4 separate regions of the Homo sapiens genome follow, and all the other regions are linked to region 3. The links come from fine-mapping of genetic effects on gene expression. A gene starts in region 3. Each other region holds a variant in brackets. All regions are shown on one strand. Distances are between the middles of the regions. Region 1 overlaps SLC2A11 (solute carrier family 2 member 11). Region 2 has its middle 28 kb from the start of LINC02556. Region 3 holds the start of SLC2A11 (solute carrier family 2 member 11). Region 4 has its middle 5.2 kb from the start of GGT5.

The links. PIP is the estimated chance that this variant, and not a neighbour inherited with it, causes the effect.
Region 1: its variant is fine-mapped to the expression of SLC2A11 in whole blood (TOPMed, PIP above 0.99). The same link has a PIP of 0.9 or more in cerebellum and cerebral cortex.
Region 2: its variant is fine-mapped to the expression of SLC2A11 in thyroid (GTEx, PIP 0.96).
Region 4: its variant is fine-mapped to the expression of SLC2A11 in spinal cord (GTEx, PIP above 0.99).

What each region holds. Positions count from the first base shown.
Region 1 is chr22:23,882,000-23,887,147 of GRCh38, forward strand. SLC2A11 (solute carrier family 2 member 11) reads left to right here. Exons shown (of 12, transcript NM_001024939.4): 7 at 460-647; 8 at 760-870; 9 at 1,773-1,874; 10 at 1,950-2,025; 11 at 2,303-2,430; 12 at 2,650-4,313. The coding sequence ends at 2,850. Among named protein-coding and RNA genes, the nearest start is that of MIF, 9.8 kb to the right of the region's middle. The variant G/A (reference allele first, on the strand shown) is at 2,704.
Region 2 is chr22:23,351,896-23,357,043 of GRCh38, forward strand. No RefSeq gene overlaps it. Among named protein-coding and RNA genes, the nearest start is that of LINC02556, 28 kb to the left of the region's middle. The variant A/T (reference allele first, on the strand shown) is at 2,382.
Region 3 is chr22:23,855,400-23,860,547 of GRCh38, forward strand. SLC2A11 (solute carrier family 2 member 11) reads left to right here and starts at 2,476. Exons shown (of 12, transcript NM_001024939.4): 1 at 2,476-2,630. The coding sequence starts at 2,601.
Region 4 is chr22:24,247,731-24,252,878 of GRCh38, forward strand. It overlaps the pseudogene GGTLC4P and the pseudogene POM121L9P. Among named protein-coding and RNA genes, the nearest start is that of GGT5, 5.2 kb to the left of the region's middle. RefSeq lists a silencer at 1-145 and enhancers at 55-1,043, 3,851-4,351. The variant G/A (reference allele first, on the strand shown) is at 2,858.

The DNA of each region.
Region 1 (5,148 bases), 27 kb after region 3:
AGAGGCAGAGAGAGAGAGAAACACACACACAGACACAGAGACAGAGAGATTGAGAGGCAGAGAGAGAAACACACACACACACAGAGACACACACAGAGACAGAGAGATTGAGAAAGACAGGCAGAGAGAGAGAGAAACACACACACACAGACACAGAGACAGAGAGATTGAGAGAGACAGAGGCAGAGAGAGAGAGAAACACACACACACACACAGACACAGAGACAGAGAGATTGAGAGGCAGAGAGAGAAACACACACACACACAGAGACACACACAGAGACAGAGAGATTGAGAGAGACAGAGGCAGAGAGAGAGACACACACACACACAGACAGACTCAGAGACAGAGAGTGAGCCAAGAAGGAAAGGAATGGTGGGATGGAGGGGGGCGTCCCTGTAGGGGGACCAAAGAGGGGCTTGGGGACGGGGAGCTCAGTACCCTCCTCCCTGGCTCAGCACTACGGCGGCTCCGGGGCTCCGGGGACTTGGCAGGGGAGCTGGAGGAGCTGGAGGAGGAGCGCGCTGCCTGCCAGGGCTGCCGTGCCCGGCGCCCATGGGAGCTGTTCCAGCATCGGGCCCTGAGGAGACAGGTGACAAGCCTCGTGGTTCTGGGCAGTGCCATGGAGCTCTGCGGGAATGACTCGGTGAGACCCCTGCCCCGCCGCACACCCTGGGCCCCGGGGGCTTGGTGTTGCAGGCCGCTGGGAGCCATGGGAGGTGGAAGGGAGCCCAGGCCTGAAAGCCACCCTCTCCCAGGTGTACGCCTACGCCTCCTCCGTGTTCCGGAAGGCAGGAGTGCCGGAAGCGAAGATCCAGTACGCGATCATCGGGACTGGGAGCTGCGAGCTGCTCACGGCGGTTGTTAGTGTGAGTCTGGAGGGTGCCCTTCCTCCACCAGCCCTGTGGGGAGGGACCCCCAGGTCCTCTGCATTAAACCAGTTTACACTCCAGCTTATGGTGTTAAAATGCAGTGAGGGGCCAGGTGCGGTGGCTCATGCCTGTAAGCCCAGCACTTTGGGAGGCCGAGGTGGGTGGATCACAAGGTCAGGAGTTCGAGACCAGCCTGGCCAACACAGTGAAACCCCCGTCTCTACTAAAAAATACAAAAAATTATCCCGGCGTGGTGGCGGGCGCCTGTAATCCCAGGTACTTGGGAGGCTGAGGCAGGAGAATCGCATGAACCCAGTAGGTGGAGGTTGCAGTGAGCCGAGATGGTGCCATTGCACTCCAGCCCAGGCAATAGTGCTGAGGTGGGATCAGGAGTTGGAGACCAGCCTGGGCAACATGGTGAAACCCCGTCTCTACAAAAAATACAAAAATTAGCCAGGCGTGGTGGTCTTCGCCTGTAGTGCTAGCTACTGGCGAGGCTGAGGTGGGAGGATCACTTGAGCCTAGGAGGTTGAGACTGCAGTAAACCGAGATTGTGCCACTGCACTCCAGCGTGGGCTGGACCAGTGAGACCCTGTCTCAGCTCAGTGAGACCAGTAAGACCCTGTCTCAATCAATCAATCAATGCAGTGAGTTAGAGAGCATCTATTGAGCATCTACGGTTTGCGGGTCACTTCCAGCACCATTTTGAGATGCGGAAACTGGCTGAAGTTGGGTGATTGATTGACCAAGTTCCTTTGGGAAATTAATAAAGTCACACTGAAGCAATAAACTACCCTCACCTCCACCACCAGCTTTCTCAGGAGACCCCTTCCCATTGCCTGCCCCAGACCTCAGGGACCATGGCTGGGTGTGTGGGTCTGTGCTTTCTGCCTTTGCAGTGTGTGGTAATCGAGAGGGTGGGTCGGCGCGTGCTGCTCATCGGTGGGTACAGCCTGATGACCTGCTGGGGGAGCATCTTCACTGTGGCCCTGTGCCTGCAGGTAGCTGGGGTGGATGAGGGCTGGGGGGTCCAGGCCGGGCTGACTTCCACCTCACCCCCGCCCCGTCCACGGCAGAGCTCCTTCCCCTGGACACTCTACCTGGCCATGGCCTGCATCTTTGCCTTCATCCTCAGCTTTGGCATTGGCCCTGGTGAGTGGGCCCAAGGGGCTCTGGGCATCCATCATCACATAGAAGGAGTGATGGGTGCCTGGGTGCACAGTGGGTGGGTGTGAATGCAATGTCCCCTGCAGGCCCTCAGAGACCACCTCATGCCGGGGCTTCTGGGAGGGAATGGCAGGAGGAGAGCACTGAGGGGCCCCCCATACAGACTGGGCCTGGGCTCCCACTCCCATGTCTGGGCTGGGGTCGGGGAGAGGCAGGCAGGGAACCCTGGCCAGCAGCCCCCTGTCCCTGCCCCTCCTTCTAGCCGGAGTGACGGGGATCCTGGCCACAGAGCTGTTTGACCAGATGGCCAGGCCTGCTGCCTGCATGGTCTGCGGGGCGCTCATGTGGATCATGCTCATCCTGGTCGGCCTGGGATTTCCCTTTATCATGGTAGGCCCGCCCCTCCCGCTGGGGGCCCTGCCTTAGGCTGTGTCCCTGTCATCCTGAGAACCCCAGGGGGAGGCTTCCATCCAGGGAGACTGAGACTGAAAGGGAGGGGTCTTAGGGGAGCAAAGAGGGGGGCAAATGCCTCCTCACGACCTGTCATGGGCCTTCTGTTTAGGGGTTGATGGAGACACACCAGGTCTTGGGGTCTTTTTTAATCCGCAGGAGGCCTTGTCCCACTTCCTCTATGTCCCTTTCCTTGGTGTCTGTGTCTGTGGG[G/A]CCATCTACACTGGCCTGTTCCTTCCTGAGACCAAAGGCAAGACCTTCCAAGAGATCTCCAAGGAATTACACAGACTCAACTTCCCCAGGCGGGCCCAGGGCCCCACGTGGAGGAGCCTGGAGGTTATCCAGTCAACAGAACTCTAGTCCCAAAGGGGTGGCCAGAGCCAAAGCCAGCTACTGTCCTGTCCTCTGCTTCCTGCCAGGGCCCTGGTCCTCACTCCCTCCTGCATTCCTCATTTAAGGAGTGTTTATTGAGCACCCTTTGTGTGCAGACATGGCTCCAGGTGCTTAGCAATCAATGGTGAGCGTGGTATTCCAGGCTAAAGGTAATTAACTGACAGAAAATCAGTAACAACATAATTACAGGCTGGTTGTGGCAGCTCATGACTGTAATCCCAGCACTTTGGGAGGCCAAGGTGGGAGGATCAATTGAGGCCAGAGTTTGAAACCAGCCTAGGTAACATAGTGAGACCCCCTATCTCTACAAAAAATTTTAAACATTAGCTGGGCATGGTGGTATGTGCTAACAGCTCTAGCTACTCAGGAGGCTGAGGCAGCAGGATCACTTGAGTCCAAGAGTTCAAGGTAGCAGTAAGCTACAATCACACCACTGCATGCCAGACTGGGTGACAGAGGGAGACTTCATCTCTTTAAAACATAATAATAATAATTACAGACTCAGGAAATGCAGTGAAAGAAAAATACAGGTTGGCCAGGTGAGGTGGCTGATGCCTGTAATCCCAGCACTTTGGGAGGCCAAGATGGGAAGATTGCTTTGAGACCAGAAGTTTGAGACCAGCCTGGGCCACATAGTAAGATCCTGTTTCTACCAAAAAAAAAAAAAAAAAAAATTAGCTGGGTGTGGTGGTACATGCCTGTGGTCCCAGCTACTCAGGAGGCTGAAATGGGAGGATCACTTGAGCCTGGGAGGTCGAGGCTGCAGTGAGTCCTAATTGAGCCACTGCACTCCAGCCTGGACAACAGAAAGAGACCATGTTTCAAAAAAAATAAATACAGGTTGTAGTGGGTATGGGTATGCATACCAGGAGGCCCGACCTCGTCTGAGAGGGGAGTGGTCAGAAAAGAATTTTCTGAGGAATTGATGTTTTTAATCAACTTTATTGAGGTATAATTTATACATAACCAACTGCATCCATTTTAAGTATATATTTGGCGAGTTTTGAGTTCTAAGTATAGTTTTGGTGAGTGTATACACTTGGGAAACACCACCGTGATCAAGATGGAACCTTTACCCTACCCCAAGGCACCCACATGCCCATTTGCTATCAGTAACCCACCCCAGTCCCAGACCTGGGGAACCACTGACCTGCTTTCTGCCTCAATTGGTCAGATTTGCCTTTTTTCAGAATCTGAAGTCATTCCGTACTGTATGTACACATTTGTGTCTGGCTTGGCTCCAGATAAAGTTTTTGGGATTCATGAATGTTGTTGCACGTATTAGGAGAGACTCCTTTGTATTGCTGAGTAGTATTCCCCTCTGTGGTTAGACCATGATTTATTTATCCATCTACCTGTTGGTGAACATTTTGGCTGTTTCTAATTCTTGGCCATCATGAATAAAACTGCTGTGAATGTTCCTACAATAATAATTGTCTAAACATATGTTTTTATTTCTTTTGTGTCTTAGTCCGTCGGGCTGCTATAACTAAGAACCACAGCCTGGGTGGCTTATAAACAACAGAAATTTATTTTTCATGGTTCTGGAGGCTGGGAAGTCCAAGATCAAGGTGCCAGTGGATTCAGTGTCTGTTGAGGGCCCATGTCTTGATTCATAGATGGCGGTCTTCTTGCTGTGTTCTCCTAGACATGGCAGAAGGGGCAAGGGAGCTCTCTGGGGTCTCTTTTATAAGGGCACCAATCCCATTCATGCAGGCTCTGCCCTCATGACCTAATCACCTCCGAGGAGGCCCAAAGGCCCTACCTCCAAGTACCATCATATGAGGGATTAGGTTTCAAGGTATGAACCTGGGGAGGACATAAACAGTCAGTCTAGCTTTTTGGGTAAATGAATTGCTGGGCTTAATAATAAATGTATATTTAACTGTATAAAAATTGTTTTCCAAAGTGGTTGATTATATTGTTTCACATTCTCATTAATAATGTATGAGTTCTGGATACTCCAGATCCTCATCAGCACTTGGTATTGTCAGTCTCTTCAATTTAGCCATTCTAGTGAGTGTGTAGTGGTATCTTGTCATTTAATTGTGGTATTTCCCTAATGACTAATAATGTTTGACATCTTTTCATGTGCTCAGTATGGCCATTTGTGGGTTTTCTTTTATGAATAATTTGTTCAAATATTTTGTCTACTTTTTTTTGTTGTTGTTGTTGAGACAGGGTTCTCTGTCGCCCAGGCTGGAGGGCAGTGGAATGAACTCAGCTCATTGCAACCTCTGCCTCCTGGACTCAAGCGATCCTCCC
Region 2 (5,148 bases), 500 kb before region 3:
TTCTGATTGCATAGGTGCATGATGGTGTCTTTCTCTCCATTAGTTAACGTTTACTTTCTCGGTTCTAAAACTAGTTCTCGGCCAGGCACAGTGGCTCACGCCTGTAATCCCAGCACTTTGGGAGGCCGAGGCAGGCAGATCACGAGGTCAAGAGATCGAGACCATCCTGGCTAACATGGTGAAACCCTGTCTCTACTAAAAATAAATTAGCTGGGCATGGTGGCGGGTGCCTGTAGTCCCAGCTACTTGGGAGGCTGAGGCAGGAGAATTGCTTGAACCTAGGAGGCAGAGGTTGCAGTGAGCCGAGGTTGTGCCATTGCACTGCAGCCTGGTAACAGAGCGAGACTCCATCTCAAAAAAGCTGGCCTTCCAGTGTCCAAAATGCTGTCATCTCTTCTTCCACAGTTTGTCTATGTGGGTTTGTAGCTTTAAAAACTTTATTTCATGGTTTTTTTTTTTTAAGGATAATTGGCGGGGGGAAATAAAAAATTTTGGATCCCTCTTCTTTCACAGGAAGTGGTGAACGATTTTTCATTTACACAAACATTTAAAAACAATTTTTTCTACCTTTTGACAGCTACATTGCTTCCCATAGTGTAATACTCAATAAATTATTTAACCATCTACTATTGTTAGCCATTCAAATCATTTCCTATTTTATACTATTGTCAACTTCACTGAGGTGACCATCTGATACATGTATCTTTGGGTTCATTCAGAATTATTCCTAGAGAATAGTGCTTTAAAGTAAAGGTTTTATTATTATTTAGGTATGGCAGGGCCAACAGATCAGATGTCAGCCATTGAAAAAGCAATTTGGGCCGGGTACGGTGGTTCACGCCTGTAATCCCAGCACTTTGGGAGGCCGAGGTGGATGGATTACCTGAGGTCAGGAGTTTGAGACCAGCCTGACCAACATGGTGAAACCCTGTCTCTACTAAAAATACAAAAAAAATAGCTGGGCATGGTGGTGGGTGCCTGTAATCCCAGCTACTTGGGAGGCTGAGAAAGGAGAATTGCTTGAACCTGGGAGATGGAGGTTGCAGTGAGCTGAGATCGTGCTAGTGCACTCCAGCCTGGGCAAGAAGAGTGAAACTCTATCTAAAACAAAAGAAAAGAAAAGAAAGAAGAAAGAAAAGAAAAGAGTAGTTTGTTACTTGCAAATCCCAAGACAAGGGGACACTCCATGCCATGGGAGCAAGAGGCTGCACAGAGAATGCTGCAGTCTGTCAGAAGGTGGTGGGGATGGGGGATGTTGCAAGAGGTGTTGCTGTGGTTTCCATAGGAAGGAAGAGGTAAGGCAAGGTGAGCAGGTTCAGGATTGGTTAGTTCAAACAATTTCAGTGGGCTCTGTGGCATCGGGGCTGTTCCATCTGGTACCTAGCCCTGGTGTGATTAGGGTGTGAGGCTATTAGTCCAGAGTGGGAGAGCCCCATAAAGGAGGTGGTTGGGGATGTGGGCTCTGGATTGGTGAGTTTGTATATGAAAGGCACACTAAGAGACAAGTGGCTTATTTCTAGGAATTGGCTAAACCTGGGAGGAGCACCCTCCAGGAGCAGCAAAGCCCTGGATGTTAAAGTATCAGAAAGGAGACAATAAAGAACATGGTTAGTAAAAAATAGCTAGGGCAAAAGAGATGCCCCTTTGAAATGTTAGGATAGATTTTGCCAAATTGCCCCCAAGAAAGCTTGAACTAATTGATCTCTCACATCAATGGTGAAAGTTCCTGGTTTTCTATATTCTTGCCACTAGGCACTACCACTGAAAGAATAGTGGTAAAGATCCTTGCAAATTCAATAGGTGCCATTTGGATATCTGGTTTGAATTTGCGTGTCTTGGTGTGCATGCTACTGATCTGTGAAAATGGTATTTTGTGGATGTGAAGACCCCTTGGAGCCTGGCTGGTGGGATGGAGAGGACTGTGGACTGTACCCACCCTGATGTGCTCCTGGCCTCCATGGAAGGACAGCTATGTGGGAAGTTTCAGAAGGGCTACAACTTCCCCACCCCAGCTGTGACCCAGCCCACAAAGGATTCTAGAGATTTAGTCCCTTGCATGACCTTCTAAAGTGAGAACATAGGGCCAGCATCAGTAGCTCCTGGGATTTGGGTAGACCTTTCTACAGTCCAGCTTTTTGGAGAAGCTTAATGTCATTTATGCTTGCTGAGTCCTGTGTAAGCCCCAAAGCCAAGCTTTTGCAAGCATAGGACTTAGGCACCTTTAAAAAGGAGTTGTTTACCTTCTACCCTCCTGAAGAGTGTGTAGGAGTTTCCCTTTGAGAATAACCACTGGTCCCTTCAGATGGCTTGGCTGCTTCTGCCAGGCTCTACTTTTGGAAATGCCCTTCATCGTGTCAGTCTCAGAATTAAAGACTTTCAGC[A/T]TCTCCTCCCCATTGTCCAGGGATGAAGTCTGTTCTCCTTAGCTTGGCATTGAAGCTCTCTGTCTTCCATTCACCCTTCCAGTCCAACTGGCCTCCCCAAGAAGCCCCTGAATCTGCCTTGTACCAATGTTAATTTCTTCTCTGCCTCTCCAAATTTTGCCCATGTCTCAATACCCGGTACCATCAAGAGACATCACAGTTTTGGGCATTGAGATATATGAACACTGACAGTTCTCAGGGCAAGAAAACACACAGCACATGCCTCTCTATGGAGGCCACTCTATTCACCTGGATGCTTACAATGTAATCTATAGTTTGAATTTACAGGGCTCTTTCCAGATTATAATTCAATCTTAACTTCTCTGAGTCTAAATTTTTACATTGCTTTCTGAATCATCTTTGTTACCATTTTATTCTTAACAGGCTAAAGGAAGGGTTAATAGAGTAGTGCTAACAAATAGGATCTGGGTTTATAATCAGGCTTTTGTGATTTGAATCAAAGAAACACAAAAACTTAGTGTTTATCAGAGTGTAGTGCACTTATTCCTGGAGTTATGCGAGATCATTTTAGATGGCATAGAAACTATAAAGCACTTATAGAATGGATGTGTATTTATTTTGCTGTGCATTAGGAAAAAAAAAACACCTTACTATCGAGTCCATGGTTTAATGGATATTACCTGTGGCAAGGATTGCTGGCAATCTGTTAAAATCTGTCCCACCTTCCTTGGTACACGGCCAGATTACATTTTCCAGCCTTGGTTGCAATTAGATTGACCACGTGAATAAGTTCTCACCAATGGACTCTGAGTGGGAGTGAAGAGTGCCACAGCCAGGCCTGGCCCATACAAATGCTCCATGGTCACACTTCTGCTCCTGCCTGTTCCAGGTGATGGGGAATTGACACCTATGGCAACTTTAGAAACCATGAGTTAAGGATGGCAAAGACACCGTAGTCTAGATTAGGAGTGAGTAAACTAGAGCCTAAGGGCCAAATCTGGCCCACTGTCTTTTTAAAAATAAAGTTTTATTGAAGAACAGCCATGCCTGTTTGCATAGGTATTGTTTAAGGGCTACCTTCACTACCACAGCAGTTGTCACAGACAGCCCATGGCCTGCAAAGCCCGAAGTACGTACTATCTGGCCCTTTTATAGGGAAAGTTTGCTGACACCTTAATTTCAATCTCTGAATGACCATATGGAGGACAGCCACCTTATTGACCTGAACAACATTCTAGTCCTTTACCTAAGCGAAAAATAAGCCATTGAAATTCTGGGCCTATTTGCTACCATAGTCTACCCTGCTCTCACTAATAAGTCTTGCTCAGCAGTCTCAGGGTGATTGCCTGATGAATGTACATGACCCGACTTCCAGTTGTTTGAGCCAATGAGGCTGACTAGTTATGCCCACGGGAGTACAGGTCTCTTCTCTACGACCCACCACCAGGCCAAAATTTCCTCTAGATGCTCTGACCAGTCAGTCCTAGGACCTGATTGACTCCAGGGAGTCTGACCCCCTAAGTATAACACAACATCATGGGCCTGGGAAGGTATAAACATAATACAACTCCTGCCCAATGAACTGAATGTTAACAGGAAGATGTTCCCTGAAGCTCAAGGAAATGACTTTGGTGACAATGACCCTTGCCAGAGCCAATGCCTTGTCACCTACCTGGTGGTCATGATGGCGATCAAGGGTGTCCCTGCTTTCATGTAACTAACTTGCCTTCAATGGTTCGCTTTTCCCATTAAGTGACTTTTTTTCAGTTATATACTTTTGTAAACTAGAAGTGTTTTTACTGTCATTTCTTTATGTACTTTTTATTTTTACCATCAATTTAATTTAAAAAACTGCACTCACACATTTTCCATGCATACCTCTAATTATTGCAGGTTATACAGGTCTTGCACTTATGGAAATGGTATAAAGTCTCCTTTTTGAGTGAACATGTTGAAGTAAAAAGAGTTACTTCATTTAAAGAAAACTGCTCATAGAAGTACAGATGATACGCTGATAAGGCAAAAAACCACGATATTAGTATGAGAATAACTGAGGTTCCAGAAACACTGCATATGCCTAGGCTGCGGTGGAGAATGTCATAGAATCCTGGATTCATAGAGTGCAGAGCCACAGTGAAGGGTGCTTGAGAGAGCCCCTCCCCCAGAGCAACCCCGTCTTTCCACAAGGAATCCCCAAATGTCACCCAGTGGATTCTCAGACTTCTGTCTTCCAGTTCAGTGTTCTCCACCACAAAATCTACACCTGATCAATCCCATGGTTCACAGACAAAGCTGAGTAAGGGGCCCAGTAGGACATGGGCTTGCTGTGGCCCAATGCCTGCTCTAATATGTGCTTTCCATATATCTGCTGGGGTAAATTGATGGAGGTGGAGAGGTTTGGGGGAGTTCATTTGAAGCCCCCAGATATGCCCACTCTCCCAAGTCCTACCCAACTGCTTAGAAGTTAAGGCCAGTTCCTAGGATTTTACTCTGCACATCATGTAATTCCACATGGGAAACCAGAGGGTGTTCCCCAGAAAAAAGCAATAACCCCAACCAACTGCCACTTAAACAAGAGACATACTGCTTACAGCTGAAGTGGTGCCAGAGGTGTTACACGTATTAAACAAAAATGAGATCTATTGTGAGGCTTGGTATGCTCCAGCCTCACCCATCACAATCTGCAGAGTCATCACGAACCAGAAATTGGCTTCAGAGGCTGCAGCCAGACCCTGGCAAAACCCAGGAGTGGCCAAAAGATTCTCTG
Region 3 (5,148 bases):
GGAGGTGGGGGGGGTCAGCCCCCCTTCCGGCCGGCCGCCCCGTCCGGGAGGTGAGGGGCGCCTCTGCCCGGCCGCCCCTACTGGGAAGTGAGGACCCCTCTGCCCGGCCAGCCGCCCCGTCCGGGAGGGAGGTGGGGGGGACAGCCCCCCGCCCAGCCAGCCGCCCTATCCAGGAGGTGAGGGGCGCCTCTGCCCGGCCGTCCCTACTGGGAAGTGAGGAGCCCCTCTGCCTGGCCAGCCGCCCCGTCCGGGAGGGTGGTGGGGGGGTCAGCCCCCCGCCCGGCCAGCCGCCCCATCCGGGAGGTGAGGGGCGCTTCTGCCCGGCCGCCCCTACTGGGAAGTGAGGAGCCCCTCTGCCCGGCCACGACCCCGTCTGGGAGGTGTGCCCAGCGGCTCATTGGGGATGGGCCATGATGACAATGGCGGTTTTGTGGAATAGAAAGGCGGGAAGGGTGGGGAAAAAATTGAGAAATCGGATGGTTGCCGGGTCTCTGTGGATAGAAGTAGACATGGGAGACTTTTCATTTTGTTCTGTACTAAGAAAAATTCTTCTGCCTTGGGATCCTGTTGATCTGTGACCTTATCCCCAACCCTGTGCTCTCTGAAACATGTGCTGTGTCCACTCAGGGTTAAATGGATTAAGGGCGGTGCAAGATGTGCTTTGTTAAACAGATGCTTGAAGGCAGCATGCTCGTTAAGAGTCATCACCACTCCCTAATCTTAAGTACCCAGGGACACAAACACTGCGGAAGGCCAAGGCCGCAGGGTCCTCTGCCTAGGAAAACCAGAGACCTTTGTTCACTTGTTTATCTGCTGACCTTCCCTCCACTATTGTCCTATGACCCTGCCAAATCCCCCTCTGCGAGAAACACCCAAGAATGATCAATAAAAAAAAAATAAATAAATTAAAAAAAAAAAAGAAAAAAATTAACCTATCAAAATAAAATATCAGCAGTTGAAACTAACAATGTATTAATAACAATAATATTATGACCAAGTTGCGTCTACCCCAAGAATTCAAGAATGGTTTACCATTAGAAAGTTTATTGATGTAACTGATCTCATTAACAGATTAAAGGAGAATACCCATATGATCATCTTAATAGATGCACGAAAAGCATGCAATAAAATACCTATTTATTATAACTGCTAATATTTTGTGTTTTTCCTTAAAAATGCAGTGTTTTTAGGAATTAAAGTTCAGAGCAGCAAAAGTCAAACAAAAACCAAGTCTGAGCAATAGAGCTACTACAGTGCCCATCACAGTGTCTGCTCAGGTGACTTCTTAAGGTCATGTCCAGCTCTATGTTTCTGTGACCACAAATAGCATCTTTGGCAAGTCTAGTTTCAGTTGGTCTTTGTCCAGCTCCTGGATTCCTCCATGCAGGGCCTGAGAAGCCCTGAGGGATAAAAGATTAATCCGGTTCAGTGGACTCTGTGGTTCCTCAACTCCAAGTGCCCCCAGCATAAGTCGGACCTGCCTCTCACGCAATGGATCCCCTGGCGGCAACCCGAGACCGGTTCTCCTACCCGCATTCCGCCAAGTCTCTCGCTCTGCCCAGGACGCACAGATGAGAGCGCTCCGAAGACTGGTGGGTCTATCTTTCGGTCTTTCCTAATTTTCCCGTCCTCTGGGGAAAGGTCGGGGATACCTGAACCAAAGTGTGTGTGTGTGGGGGGGGGGGGGTGTAGGTGGGGCGTGCATAGATGTGCACAACCAAGGGCTTGGCCCTCCGGAGAACGCCCAGGGGCAGTGGCCTCCGAGGTTCTGGCGGCCGGCAGTGGCGACCGGCGCAGGGAATCGCGCAGGGTTGCGGCTGAGGTCAGACCAGCGAGAGACAGAGACCCGCAGACATTTAGTCCAGAGACTGTAGCAAAGGAGGGGGACGAGGGGCCAGAGCCGGAATTTCGGGGGAGGACTTGGGAGCGCGGCGACCAGAGTCGCTTGCTGGCACTTGCGAGGGCGAATGCAGGGGCTTGGCCGAGATGACCTTGGACCAGAGCTCCCTTCCGGCCTGCAGAGATGAGCTTGGGGCTTAGCCGAGTAAGGAGTGAGCGGCTTTTCAGCCTCAGTGCTGCGGCAGAGGCGGATGGAGGATGAACTGGAGCCGTCCTTACGGCCTCGGACGCAGGTGAGCTCCCAGCGGCGGCGACAAACCCCGCGGCGGTGACCCCAAACCCCCCCCCCGCGGCGGCGACTCCCCCCCAACACGCTGGGGCGAACTCCCCAGCACCCCCAGCCCTTCTTAAAAACGCTGAGTCCGCGCATGCGCCTCAGGCGCCCTCCGCGACACTCTAGCGGCTCTGCGCTTCACTGCGCCTGAGCTTGAGTCTCAGGCCTTAGTCCCGGCCATCGTTTAGCGTTGCGCGAACCCTCAGCTGGTGCGGCCGCTCTCAATACCCACTGCGCTTGCGCTACAGCTTCGTCTCGACGGGTTTGCTCCTCTCAAACGCTCACTGCGCGTGCGCTAGCGCCTCTTTCACCACTGGGCGCTGCGCGCTGCCCTTCCCTCCGCGCACAGGCTGCCGGCTCACCGCTTGCTAATGGCAGCCGGGGTCTCCCTGGGACAGCAAGACCTCCGCTCAGGCCCCTCTTTCGAATGCTCCACGCCCTCCTGCGATCTAGAATGGTATGAATTCTCATACTTGCCCAGACCAGGCGTTTCAGATGAGGGATTGCGGACCTGAGTGAACTGCGCAGGTGCAGCCACCTGGGAGGCTTAACTAAGTCGTCAAATGTTCAAAAATATCGTGCTTGTATGTACAGTGGCGTTAGGTGCTAGGCTCAGATGTGCATAGGCAGGTGTTTACGCCCAGGGTCGGCCTGTGGGCCAGAGCAAGGTTGCTGGACCCTGGCATCCCAGCCCCCAGAGATGCTAAATCCTCTGCCGATCAGCCCTGACCTCAGAGGCAGTAAGCCCTCCGAGCGCTGCAATCCTGACTGCTCGCCCCCTCCCGAGACTGTTTCCCACCCCCGCCTCTTTCCTCCTCATGCTCCCTCAGCTCTGACCTGACGTCCTGCCTCACAGAGGGAAAGGGCGCAGCCAGAGGAGAGCGCCCGCACTGCACTGCCCACCGCTTCTAGGGGTTCCTTCCCAATCTGGACTGATTTCTTTAGGTATTTGCATGGCACATTCCCTCACCTCCTTTGTCTTGATTTGCACTTGTATTCCTTGACAGCCTTATTTAAAATAGCACCAACTAAGGTGGGAGGATCGCCCAGGAGTTCGAAGCTGCAGGGATCTAATAGGATCTCACCACTGCACTCCAGCGTGGGCGACGTAGCGAGACCTTGTCTCTAAAAAATAAAAATAAAATAAAATAAAATAAAATAGCACCACCTGGTCCAAACACTTCCTACGCCCCTTCACTGCTTTAAGTCTCTGTAGCACCAGCTGATGTACTATATATTTTGCTTGTTCATTTTGCGATTGCTTGTCTTTCTCTGCTGGAAGGAAAGCTCTGACAGCTCATGGATTTTGTCTGTTGTTCACTGCTGTATCCCAACACCTAGAACAGTAGGATTATTGACCATAATAGGGAGGCAATAAATCTTTGTTTGCTGAATTAATGGTCCCTATCGTAGCTAATGTCTGAATGCTTACCATGACCAGGCACGGTATAGGCAATCTCCATGCATGATCTCATTGAATTCAACGATTTCCTGTAGTCTTAGAGACCTGTCAATATCTCCTGCTACATGAGCTCAGCTGCCATCAAGCACTGTGTTCGCTGCTTCCTTCACATCTGCTGTCTTAAGGGAGCTCTCACTTCCATGCGGCCCCCGTGGAGCTGTAATTTGGCCTCAATGGGACCAGATGCCAGGTTTCTCACCTGGCTTCTTCCTAAGGCTTCCAGCCTTAGAGAAAGTTACTTAGGCCTTATTGGAACTATGGGCAGCCAGGGCCCCTGTCACCAACCTGTCTCCAGACCTATGGCAAGGCCTTCAGCAGGATTCTGCCCTCCAGAGCCACTTCCTCTGCTCCCCCAGCCTCCAGTGCAGTATCTCACTGAATGGTGAAAGCACAGCTGTCTCTTTCCCAGCTGTATCTTGCCCCCCAGCACACTTCCTGGCTGAGATAAACATTCAGCATTTTTTTTTTTTTGAGATGGAGTCTCACTCTGTTGCCCAGGCAGGAGGGCAGTGGCGCGATCTGGGCTTACTGCAACCTCCGCCTCCCTCCCGGATTCAAGCAATTCTGCCTCAGCCTTCTGAGTAGCTGGGATTACAGGTGCCCACCACCAAGCCCGGCTAATTTTTGTATTTTTAGTAGAGACAGGGTTTTACCATGTTGGCCAGGCTGGTCTCGAACTCCTGACCTCAAGTGGTCTGCCCACCTCGGCCTCCCAAAGTGCAGGGATTGCAGGTGTGGGCCACGACATCCGGCCAACACTCAGTATTTGACTAATAAATGAATAAATAGTCCGTAGGTTCTGGAAACTTCAGAAAACCTTAGCCAAACATCCTTCTGTCATGAAAATTGTATCAAAGTTTTCAAAAATAATACATTTAATTCTACAGAACAATTTGCCAGAACAAGAAAGGCAGTATTTTTTGGGGGAAGATATCAACGATTCAATTTTTGTAAAGTCAACTACTTTGCAAATATCTAGGAAAATACCTGAGGGAAGGAGTTAATTGTTGTGCCTTTGGAGGAGTGGAGAACTTTCAGTATATACTGAATTTTCAAAAATCTTAACAAACGTGTCATTTTGTAATTAAAAATCACAAAAGAGTGGGCTGGGTATGGTGGCTCACGCCTGTAATCCTACCACTTTGGGAGGCCAAGGCGAGTGTATCGCTTGAGCTCAGGAGTTTGAAACCAGCCTGGGCAATATGGTGAAATCCCATCTCTACAAAAAAATTAGCCCAGCATGATGGTGTGTGCCTGTAGTCCCAGCTACTTGGGGGGCTGAGGTGGGAGGATCGCTTGAGCCCAGGAGGTTGAGGCTGCAGTGAATCAAGATTGCGACACTGCACTCCAGCCTGGGTGACAAAATGAGACCTTGTCTCAAAAAACAAAACAGAAAATCACCAAAGGAGAAAGATAAATACTTCTGTGAATCCCTAAGACGACCTCAACTACAGGTCGGGTGCGGTGGCTCACGTCTGTAATCTCAGCAATTTGGAGGCTGAGGTGGGCAGAT
Region 4 (5,148 bases), 390 kb after region 3:
TCGCTGCACCCTCTGGTGGCTGGTCCTAGGTGGTGTTGCTGCCCAGCCCAGGGAAGGGAGGGCCTGGCCCCAAGTCTGAGGGATCAGGGTGGGAAGGGGCAGGGCTTGGCATGGACCTTCCCCTGGCCCCCAGCCACGTGCCTGGCTTTCCCCATGCTGAAGATGCTGAGGCTAGTTCCAGCGACCGCAGCGTGAAGATCTCCGAATCCCGCCTCTCCAGTGCCTCATTTATTGTGCTGCTCTGCTGCTCACAGGGGAAGCCGGTCCCCCAGAGTCCCCTTCCTGGTCCTAGTGAGTATCTTGTCCCTAGATTGCTTGTCAGCCTTGTCCGCCTGGAGCACTCAGTAGCCAGCAGGCTCCCCGCCTTTCCTGGAGTCCGAGGCAGCTGCCCAGCCACCAGCCGTGTGGACGATGGCTTGCACCACAGCGATGAAAGTGGATGCGATCTGGGTGTGATGGTGCCGGGTCTCCAGGGCTGCAGTCACTGCCTGGGGGTGGGAGGAGAGGGGAAGCCTGAGCAAGGCTCCAGATGCCACCTGAACCACATCTGTGTGGTCACAGGCCTCAGCCCAGGTGGTGCCATTTCGGGCCAGGTCATCAGGAAGAGCAGGTTGGGGCCTGCTGGGTCTCACTGGAGCAGGGGGTTTGGCCTTCATGTCACAGGGGCTCCAGATGGCCCAGGCACTAGAGAGAGGACACCAACCATTGTCCACTCTGTGATGATCCAGGCCTCCAGCCCAGGATGCCCTGGGGCCCCACACCGTGACTCAGTTTCTCCAACCCCCGGCCCACCTGGTCAATGTTTCTCTCCACTGTCGTGACGTTGGGCAGAAGCTGGTTGTGCAGCCGGGGCTCCTCCACGGCCCGCTTCACGTCATAGCCGAACCAGAGGTTGTAGATGATGGCCTGGGGCATGGGAGTGTGATCAGCGTGGCTTGGGGGCTGTGCAGGGTGGGCACGGCCAGGGAGAAAAGCTGTGACACATATCAGTGCAGTGGCTGTGGTGATCTGTGTGCCCCCAGCAGCTCCCACAACCATCCGGACCTGGCCGTCCTGGCCCACCATGATCGTCGGGCACATGGACGAGAGCGGCTGCTTCCCTATGGCCGATGGGAGAAGACAGGGATGCCCGTCAGCTGCCTGCCCAGGACACCCGCCCCTCTCCACCCCAGTCCCCCACCCCCGGACCTCCACCCCATACCTGGCTGGATGAAATTGGCAGGTGAGGGGGCACCCCAAACTCGTTGGTGATGTTGGGAGAGCTGAAGTCGTCCATTTCATCATTGAACAGGATCCCGCTGACCGGGGAGCGGACCTTGGAGCCAAAGCTACCGCCCAGCCAGGTCAGACAGTGCCCGACCTTGCCTGGCCCAGCCTGGTCCCTATCCACCCACTGAGGCTCAAACATACTCACTGAGAGGCCCAGGATAAGCTACCAAGGTTGGGCCTCAGTTTCCCACCAGGAAAAGAGGTGACGGAGCCACCTTACTGGATAAGTGGGCAGTCCCTGGGCCACCCGCCCCTGGCCCTTTCCCACCCAGGCGGCCCAGCAGCCCCTACTAGAGGTTGATGGTGCTGGTGGTGGACACAGCACTGCCGTCTTCTGCGACGACAGACAGGTGAGCAGTGCCCCCATCAACTGGCGTGTAGAACTCGGGCTTGTAGTAGGAGATCGGGTGAGTGGTGTCGTCAGAGATCTGGGCCCGGAGCTGGGCAGCGAAGAACTCAGAGGTCATGTTGCGGACCACCTGCCGAGACCCCAGAGCTGGCCTGAGGAGGTGGGGAGGGAGGGTGGGGAGGGGGCACAGGTCTCAAAAGGCCCCTGACTGTGGCTCTGATCACAACCCTCTGGCACCCACAACCTTCCGTGGCTCCCCAGGACCCAAGGGCAGGCCCAGGATCTTGCAAGACCAGTCTGACTCCCTGTCTCTGTCGCGTTCCAGCAACTCTGAATGTCTGTCTGCCTGGTCCTCAGCCTCCAGACCCTTGCTGCATTCAATCACTCATTCCTTCATGCAAAAAATATTTCTAGAGTTTGCACTGCATGCCTGGCACTGGGGAATCAACAGGGAACAGACACTTAGGTCCTGCCCTCATGCCAAGAAAAACAAACACACACAGGGAAAGTGCTGAAACCACAAGCCAGGTAAGGGGAATCAAGAGGCATGAGGTATGGGCAGAGTGGTCAGGGAGGGCTTCTCAGAGGAGGCAACGTGTGAAAAGAGCCTGGAATGTGGCCTAAATGGTCAGTGCAAAGGCCCTGAGGCAGGTGGTATAGGCTGGTGAGCGATAGGCAAAGAGTGAATGGAGTGGGGTGGGGAGAAGAGGATGAAGATGCAGGCTGGGGCCCATCCCACAAGACCTCCTAGGTCCCATAACAACTGGCTTTTGCTCTGTGCCATGCAGGCTTAGGGCAGAGGAATGAGCAGGCTGGGGAGTGTTTTCACAGGGTCCCTCTGGCAGCTATGACGGGGATAAGGATAAAGCCCAAAGGGGAGGCTGTGGGTATCAACCAGGCAAGAGATGATGGCCTGGGTGGGAGAAAGAGAAGAATCAAGGATGGTGCCGACTAGCGAGGTAAACCCTGCAGAAAGGGCAGGTTTGGGGATGGTCAGGAGCTTGATTCTGGATACTTCATCAGACCTGAAGAGCATGGGTGCACGTATAAAAAAATAAATAAATAAGCATGGGTTCACGGGCAAGGGCGGGCTGAGAGATGAACATGGAGGTATTGACATTGAGTGGCTGCTGGATGCCATGAGCCTGGCCAAGGTCCCCAAGGCAGTGGCGAGGAGGAGATGAGGAGGTCAAGGAGGAGACAGAGGATGGACCCGAAGGCCGAAGAAAATGCCTCAAG[G/A]GAGTTTCAACACCGGGCGCGGTGGCTCACGCCTGTAATCCCAGCACTTTGGGAGGGGGATCACGACGTCAGGAGATGGAGATCATCCTGGCTAACACGGTGAAACCCCGTCTCTACTAAAAATACAAAACATTAGCCGGGTGTGGTGGCGGGCGCCTGCAGTCCCAACTACTCCAGAGGCTGAGGCAGGAGAATGGCGTGAACCCGGTAGGCGGAGCTTGCGGTGAGCTGAGATCAGGCCACTGGAATCCAGCCTGGGCGATAGAGGGAGACTCCATCTCAAAAAAAAAAAAAAAAAAAGAGAGAGAGTCTGGCTCTGTTGCCCAGGCTGGAGTGCAGTGGCGCGATCTCGGCGCATCACAATCCCTTCCCCGCCCGCCCCCGGGTTCAAGTGATTCTCCTGTCTCAGCCGCCGGAGCAGCTGGGACTACAGGCGCGTGCCACCATGTCTGACTAAATTTGTATTTTTACTAGAGACGGGGTTTCACTATGTTGGCCAGGCTGGTCTCCAACTCCTGATCTCGTGATCCGTCTGCCCCGACCTCCCAAAGTGCTAGGATTATAGGCATAAGCCACCACGCCCGGCCTCTTTTTTTTCTTTTTCTTTTTTTTATCTGGAGACTGAGTTTTGCACTTGTTGCCCAGGCTGGAGTGCAATGGTGCGATCTCAGCTCACTGCAATCTCCACCTCAGCAGGAGAGCAGGAATCTTCAGTGATCCACGGGCAGATCTGCCACCATTGTGGGCACCTGTTCCTCCCGCAACCTTTGTGCCCGCCTCTCTCCTTCCAGTACCTATTGCATGACCCCCCACGTCCGCCTCCCGCCATTGCCAGCAAGTGCCTCGCGCGGGTACCTGGCTGCGCTTATTAATCCGTTAAGCTCGCTCTGTCACGGGCGCCGTGATGTGCTCACGCGCCCACTCCCTCAGGTTTAAAAGGCGCGTTGCCCGGCAACAGAAGAAACTGCTGGCTTAGCCTTTGGCGGAGTTGGCGGCTGGACGAGGACGCTCAGAGCCCAGCTCTCGAGAGTTCAAGCAACCGACGGTTCCCCACTGCTCCCAGGAGCGGTTACCTGGGCACTCTGTGCCCCTCCTTCCTGTTCGGGCCCAGGCCGAGGACCTGCCAGTAGGGCTCAGTTGCCTGGAGCCCGTTCAGCCCATCCCCCAGTTCACTTTGCCTGTGGGATCTCCCCGTTGCTCCTGCCCGTGGACTGAGTGGCAGGCCATCCTACAAGCACCCGGACACTTGACATCAGTGGTGTCAAGACAACTCTAAGAAGGTTTTCCGTGATCCTGCAAGCCCTGCGTTCCTTCCTGGGATCCTGCCTTCAATTTGATTGCACAGGTACCACAGCAAGCCAGTGCTGTGTGCTCCGAGTTCCAGGGCGTCCTCCAGCTCAGCCACTGCACTGAGAACATGGACTCTCTGTGGGGCCCAGGAGCCGGGAGTCACCCCTTTGGGGTCCACAACACCCGGCTGTCCCCAGACTTGTGTCCAGGGAAGATAGTGTTGAGGGCCCTCAAGGAGAGCGGGGCAGGGATGCCTGAGCAGGACAAGGACCCTAGAGTCCAAGAGAATCCTGGTGATCAGAGAAGGGTCCCCGAGGTCACCGGGGATGCACCGTCTGCATTTCGGCCCCTGCGGGACAATGGAGGCCTCTCTCCCTTTGTGCCCGGGCCCGGGCCTCTGCAGACAGACCTCCATGCCCAGAGGTCAGAAATCAGATATAACCCGACATCCCAGACCTCCTGGACGAGCTCCTGCACCAACCGAAATGCCATCTCCAGCTCCTACAGCTCCACGGGAGGCTTGCCGGGGCTAAAGCGGAGGAGGGGGCCAGCCTCATCCCACTGCCAGCTGACCCTCAGTTCCTCAAAGACAGTGAGTGAGGACAGGCCTCAGGCTGTCTCTTCAGGTCACACCCAGTGTGAAAAGGCAGCAGATATAGCACCAGGGCAGACACTCACCCTCAGGAATGACTCCTCCACATCCGAGGCCTCTAGGCCCAGTACACACAAGTTTCCCCTGCTGCCACGCAGGCGAGGGGAGCCTTTGATGCTGCCACCTCCCTTAGAGCTGGGGTACCGGGTCACTGTTGAAGACCTGGACCGGGAGAAGGAGGCGGCCTTCCAGCGCATCAACAGTGCACTGCAGGTTGAGGACAAGGCCATCTCGGACTGCAGACCCTCACGGCCTTCCCACACTTTGTCCTCACTTGCAACAGGGGCTTCTGGTCTGCCTGCCGTTTCTAAAGCACCCAGTATGGATGCACAGCAGGAGACACACAAGT